Homo sapiens: one gene and its partner. The protein of the gene in region 1 purifies or fractionates together with the protein of each later gene. This does not show direct contact. Each region holds a gene or a part of one and is shown on either strand. Other genes may lie near its edges. The genes, in order: DUSP11 and MRPS21.

Region 1 (3,824 bases):
GGAGGCTGAAGTGGGAGGATCGATTGAACCCAGGAGGTCAAGGCTGCAGTGAGCCATGATCATGCCACTGTACTCCAGCCTGGGCAACAGAGCAAGACCCTGTCTCCAAAAAGAAGGTGTTGGAGACACAGGGAATTTTTAGGGAAGTGAAACTATTCTGTGTGATACTCTAAGGGTGGATACATGTTATATATTGATCAAAACCTATAAAAGGGCTTCACGTATATTAACACATTTCACAACAATCCTGTGCTGATGAAGTAGCAGTAGTACTAATATCTCTTACTGAGTGCTTATTCTGCACTAAGCTCAGAGAATAGATGGTTACATCTAATAAATAATTTTGTAGATAATCAAACAGGCTCAGAAAAGGAAGAATCAAAACTTGAACTTAGTTCTTTCTCTCATTTTTTTTGTGGCAAAATATATATAACATAATATGTACATACAATGCATAACATAGAATGAATCACGCATACCTAACCTCTAGACTTTGGTGATAACGATGTGTCAGAGTTGGTTCTTCATTTGTAACAAATGGACCACACTGGTATGGAATGTGGATAGTGGGGGAGTCTGGGTGGGTTGGGGAAGGCAAAGTACATGTGGGAACTATCTGTCCTTTTGGCTCAGTTTTGCTGTGAACCTAAAACTGCTCTGAAAACTAGTCTATTTTTTTTTTTTTTTTTTTGAGATGGTGTCTCGCTTGTCGCCCAGGCTGGAGTGCAGTGGTGTGATCTTGGTTCACTGCAAGCTCTGCCTCCTGGGTTCACGCCATTCTCCTGCCTCTGCCTCCTGAGTAGCTGGAACTACCGGCGCCTGCCACCACGCCTGGCTAATTTTTTTGTGTTTTTAGTAGAGATGGGGTTTCACCGTGTTAGCCAGGATGGTCTCGATCTCCTGACCTCGTGATCCTCCTGCCTCGGCCTCCCAAAGTGCTGGGATTACAGGCTTGAGCCACCGCACCCAGCCAAACTAGTCTATTTTTTAAAAAGTACATTGCTGGCACCTGAGTAGCCAGACAGATTGAAGGAACAGAGCATAAAGTTCAAAAATAAGCCACATACATAAAAGAATATTCAGCAATGAAAGCCATCCTTCATATATGTAGACATGTGAGAAATATTTATTTGTGAGGCCGAGACAGGAGGGTTGCTTGAGCTCAGGAGTTTGAGATCAGCCTGGGCTACATGGCAAGACGGCAAGACCCTATCTCTTTTTTTTTTTTTTTTTTTTTTTTAAATTTTTTTTTTGAGATGGAGTCACTCTGTCACCCAGGCTGGAGTGCAGTGGTGTGATCTCGGCTCACTGCAAGCTCTGCCTCCCGGGTTCACGCCATTCTCCTGCCTCAGCCTCCCGGTAGCTGGGACTACAGGCGCCTGCCACCACCCCTGGCTAATTTTTTGTATTTTTAGTAGAGACGGGGTTTCACAGTGTTAGCCAGGATGGTCTCGATCTCCTGACCTTGTGATCCTCCCGCCTTGGCCTCCCAAAGTGCTGGGATTACAGGTGTGAACCACTGCGCCCAGCTGACCCTATCTCTTTAAAAAAAAAAAAAAAAGGCCAGGTGTGGTGGTTCATGCCTGTAGTCCCAGCTACTTGTGAGGTTGAGGTGGGAGTATTGCTTGAGCCCAGGAGGTGGAGGCTGCAGTGAGCCATGTTTGTGTCACTGCACTCCAGCCTGGATGACGGATGACAGAGCAACACCCTGTTTCAAAAAAAAAAAAAAAAAAAGAAAAGAAATATTTATAAGCACTAAATATGATAAGCACTCCACCTGGAGCTGGAGATACAGTGGTGAATAAAATCTGGGAGATTACAGTCTGATTAGGAGACCAACATGAAACAAATACAGAAATACATATATAGAAGTGGGCTTATTTTTTTCTTTCTGACCACTCTGGAAGAAAGGATTGTTGTAATATACCTTCTATGTTCCAGGAGAATGGAAACTTTCCTTTGAATCTCGTTGTATGTTAGCATCACAGGACTTGAATAAATGCCTAATGTAGTACAGGATTTTAAGCACATATTTGCTCTTATTTCATTCTCTGTGACAGAGTTTTGAAAAGAAACTTGCTCCAGAAGAATGCTTTTCCCCTTTGGATCTTTTTAACAAAATCCGAGAACAAAATGAAGAACTTGGACTGATTATTGATTTAACATATACTCAACGCTATTATAAACCAGAGGTAAGTGGAACCCTTCAATGAAAAGAACTTTCTTCCTTCTGATCCTAAAATAATTTATAGTAATTCAGTAATCATCTTGTGCTAATGTGAAGCTTGGCCTTCTTTGATGGGTAGTAAGTTTAAAAGAGAACCAAGTGATTTCTCTAATTACATGTTTTTAATTGCTGTCTTAAATGGAATATTATTCAGCCATAAAAAAGAATAGATTTAATACGTGCTACAATATGGATGAACCTTAAAAACATGCTTAGTGAAATAAACCAGACACAGAAGGACAAATATATGATTCCACTTGTATGAAGTACCTAGAATAGACAAATTCACAGAGACAGAAAGCAGACTAAAGGATCTATGAGGTGGGGAGAAAAGGGAATTATGGTTTAGTGGTCAGAGTCTTTTTGTCGGGGATGATGAAAAAGTTTTGGGTATAGACAGTGGTGATGGTTACACAATACTGTGAATGTAATGCCACTGAACTATACACTTGTGGATGGTTAAAATGATTTTGACTTAGCCTCTTCTGTCTTTTATCTGTATCTACTTTTCTCCCACCCCAAGAATATCGGTTCTCAATAGTGCCTGGAATTCCCTCTATCTCACAATTCAAATCCAAGTTCTTCTGACTCTATTCTCTACTCTTCTACTTAAATCATAGCTGCTTTATGAAGGCACTGGCCCTTGAATTATAAAATATTAAATGGAACTGTTTATATAATTTATAGTTAAATATGCATTCATTCACATGGAATTTGCTTTCAGTTTTGTATACCTAGTGACTATCTATTATGTAGTTTTATTGAAAATCAAGTGATACTTCCTGGTTGAAGCAGTGTTGGAAAAAATGGCTCTTTTATCAGAATTGTGTATACTGATATTGGCATATTAAGTTTGTTATAATCTCTTGGCTTATATTCTGGGTCCCCTAATTACTCTTTAATTATTTCTCTACAAGTGAAATAATACACATCTTTTATGGTTTTGCTTTATAGGATTTGCCAGAAACTGTTCCTTACTTAAAAATTTTTACAGTTGGACATCAAGTGCCTGATGATGAGACTATTTTTAAATTCAAACACGCTGTTAATGGGTTTTTGAAAGAAAATAAAGATAATGGTGAGTTTTTGTTCTTACCTGAACTGTGGTGTGCATTATGAATGGGGTTGGGGATTTTTGGTATTTTTTTATAGTTCCAACCTCAGACCTGTTGTATTTAATGATGCTAAGGTGATGAAAATGTCAGATGGTGCTAATAGGGTAAGATGTTTTTCCTTTTGTTGATCACAAATAATTTAACTTTGGAATGTTAAATTAGTTTTAGTGCAAAATATGAACTGAACTGGCTCATCTTTCTTTTTTAATTTGAATGAGAAATATATAAAATTAAAATGTTATTTTTGTCTTCTATATTGGTTAAGAAGTGAGAAGTAGAAGAAAAGATTAAAAAACTCTGAGTCTTAGAGTTATGTGAAAGAGACAAGAAAGGGCAAAGATTAAGAATGGGACGGACCCCTAGAAGCAAAACAAGAAAGAGTGCACCAGTGGAATTGCCCCTTTGTCATATGTATTTAAGACACATGTATACATATGTAACAAACCTGCACGTTGTGCACATGTACCCTAAAACTTAAAGTA
Region 2 (3,133 bases), on another chromosome or scaffold:
CTGTATATATTGTAAGGTCACTTAATCCCTTGTGCTATGGACATTTATTAGTCATCTAGAGGACTCATTTTTGGCATACATTTCCTAGTTGTTCTTTGCCAAGTATTTTGTTAGGTGCAAAAGTGAATACAGATTTGATCTCTAACCTTAGAAAAGACACAACCCAATGAGGGGTTCAATGTAATACTGTTTGATCAGTGCTATAAAAGAGACATCAGCCGGGCGTGGTGGCTCACGCCTGCAATCCCAGCACTTTGGGAGGCCGAGGTGGGTGGATCACCTGAGGTCAGGAGTTTGAGACCAGCCTGGCCAACATGGTGAAACCCTGTCTCTACTAAAAATGCAAAAATTATCCAGGTGTGGTGGTACGCCCCTGTAATCCCAGCTACTCAGGAGGCTGAGGCGGGAGAATTGCTTGAACCTGAGAGGTTGAGGCTGCAGTGAGCCAAGATGGTGACACTGCACTCCAGCCTGGGCAACAGAGCGAGGCCCTGCCTACAAAAAAAAAAAAATGGTGCCATGGTGTTGGTTGTCCCTGGACCATCAGCAGCAATATCAGCTGGGAATTGTTAGAAATGCAAATTCTTGGCCCCTACTCTAGGCCTACAGAATCAGAAACTGTGGCACAGCAATCTGTGGTGTTCTTTGAAATAGGGTTTCACAGCCAAGCGCAGTGGCTCATGCCTGTAATCCCAGCACTTTGGGAGGCCAAGGCAGGCAGATCATGAGGTCAGAAGTTCAAGACCAGCCTGACCAATATGGTGAAACTCCGTCTCTACTAAAAATACAAAAATTAGCTGGGCGTGGTGGTGCGTGTCTGTAGTCCCAGCTACTCGGGAGCCTGAGGCAAGAGAATCTCTTGAACCTGGGAGGCGGAGGTTGCAGTGAGCCGAGATCGTGCCACTGCAACTCCTGCCTGGGCAACAGAGCGAGACTCTGTCTCAAAAAAAAAAAAAAGGCCGGTTGCGGTGGCTCATGCCTGTAATCCCAGCACTTTGGGAGGCTGAGGCGGGTGGATCACCTGAGGTCAGGAGTTCGAGACCAGCCTGCCAACATGGCGAAACCTTATGTCTACTAAAAATAACAAAAATTAGCTGGTGCTTGTAATTCCGGCTACTTGGGAAGCTGAGGCAGGAGAATCGCTTGAACCCAGAAGGCGGAGGTTGCAGTGAGCCAAGATTGCGCCATTGCACTCCAGCCTGGGCAACAAGTGCGCAACTCCGTCTCAAAAGAAAGAAAGAAATAGGGTCTTGCTTGCCCAGGCTGGAGTGCAGTGCCACAATCATGGCTCACTGCAGTCTCAACCTCCTGGGATAAAGCATTTCTCCCATTCTCCCATGTCAGCCTCCCAAGTAGCTGGGAGTGCAGGTGTGTGTGCCACCATGTCTGGTTAATTTTTATTTTTTGTGGAGATGGGGTTCTCACTATGTTGCTCAGGCTAGTGTCAAACTCCTGGGCTCAAGTGATCCTCCCAGCTCGGCCTCCCAAAGTCCTGGGATTACAGGTGTGAGCCACCATGGCCAGCCAGCAATCCCTGTTTTAACAAGCTTTCCAGATGACTACTGCATGCCAAAGTTTGATTTCACCTGAACTAGTTTACAGATGTGATAACAATTGATTTGGGCCTTTGAGGAACAAGTAGGATTTCATCAGGAAGAAAAAGAAAAGAATGATATTCCAAGTAAAGGGAACATCATGAGCAAAGAAAAAAACAAGTATGTAGGATGCTTGGAGAACTGCATATACTTAAGTGTGACTAGAGCATAGGCATTATAGGGCACGTGTTTTGTTTTTGTTTTTTGAGATGGAGTCTCCATCTTTTGCCCAGCTGGAGTGCAGTGCCTTGATCTCGGCTCATTGCAACCTCCACCTCCCAGGTTCAAGCTATTCTCCTGCCTCCGCTTCCCGAGTAGCTGGGATTACAGGTGGGCACCACCATGCCCAGCTAATTTTTGTATTTTTAGTAGAGATGGGGTTTCACCATGTTGGCCAGGCTTGTCTCGAACTCCTGACCTCAAGTGATCAGTAGGGCAGGTTATTAAAAGATATATATATAGGGGGCAATTGTTTGGGCTTTGAGCTTAGACTAGTAGTTCCAAAATCTGTCTGTACATTGGAATCACCTTGGAAACTGAAAAACCTGCTCATGTCCCTTTCCCTCTCCTTTGTGATTTAATTGGACTGGGTGTGGCCCAGGGTTCGGAATGTTTAAAAGATCCCTGGGCAGTTCTGATGTGCAGATGATTCTGGGAACTTTAGTGGCTTAGGCCACTCTGTATATTAGGAAAGATTTTTTAGCACCAGAGTGACATGATCTGATTTATGTTTTAGGGCAATAATTGGTGTAGGAAAAGAGAGTGGAAATAGGGCAACCTACTTATTCACATTTCAGATGAGTTGTTCTTTAGGATCCCTTCACAACCACTTTCTTGTTCTCAAGTTCAGGTTTAATGCCTCCTGTGAGTTTGTTTTTGTTTTGTTTTTCCTTGAGACAAGAGTCTGTTGCCCAGGCTGGAGTGCAGTGGCACCATCTCGGCTCACTACAGCCTCCACCCCGAGTTCAAGGGATTCTCCTGCCTCAGCCTACTGAGTACAGGTGCCCACCACTACGCCTGGCTAATTTTTGTATTTTTAGTAGAGGTGGGGTTTCACCATGTTGGCCAGCCTGGTCTTGAACTCCTGACCTCAAGTGATCTTTTTGAGATGGAGTTTCACTCTTGTTGCCCAGGCTGGAGTGCAGTGGCGCAACCTTGGCTTACTGCAATCTCCGCCCCCAGGGTTCAAGCAATTCTCCTGCCTCAGCCTTCCGAGTAGCTGGGATTACAGGCATACACCACCATGCCCGGCTAATTTTGTATTTTTAGTAGAGACAGGGTTTCTCCATGTTGGTCAGGCTGGTCTCAAACTCCTGACCTCAGGTGATCCGCCCACCTCGGCCTCCCACAGTGCTGGAATTACAGGTGTGAGCCACCAGCCTGACAGGATGGAACTTTAAGTAAGAGAATCACCTTAAGAATCACCCCTAGTGATTCTGTTCTTACTGAAAATGGCTCTCCCCAGTTGAGGTCTCTGAAATGCCCCATTAGTTGAGAATCATTGCTGTAGGGAGACATGTTCTTCAGGTACTGTATCA

What was found.
Region 2: the proteins of DUSP11 (region 1) and MRPS21 purify together in Homo sapiens (affinity purification with mass spectrometry, with the first as the bait; one large-scale study listed by BioGRID). This does not show direct contact.

Annotation. Positions count from the first base shown.
Region 1 is NC_000002.12:73,773,281-73,777,104, reverse strand, and holds part of DUSP11 (RNA/RNP complex-1-interacting phosphatase), read left to right. Parts: intron 1-2,060; coding exon 2,061-2,192; intron 2,193-3,181; coding exon 3,182-3,305; intron 3,306-3,824. UniProt on the Homo sapiens protein: Possesses RNA 5'-triphosphatase and diphosphatase activities, but displays a poor protein-tyrosine phosphatase activity. In addition, has phosphatase activity with ATP, ADP and O-methylfluorescein phosphate (in vitro). Binds to RNA.
Region 2 is NC_000001.11:150,303,813-150,306,945, forward strand, and holds part of MRPS21 (small ribosomal subunit protein bS21m), read left to right. Parts: intron 1-3,133.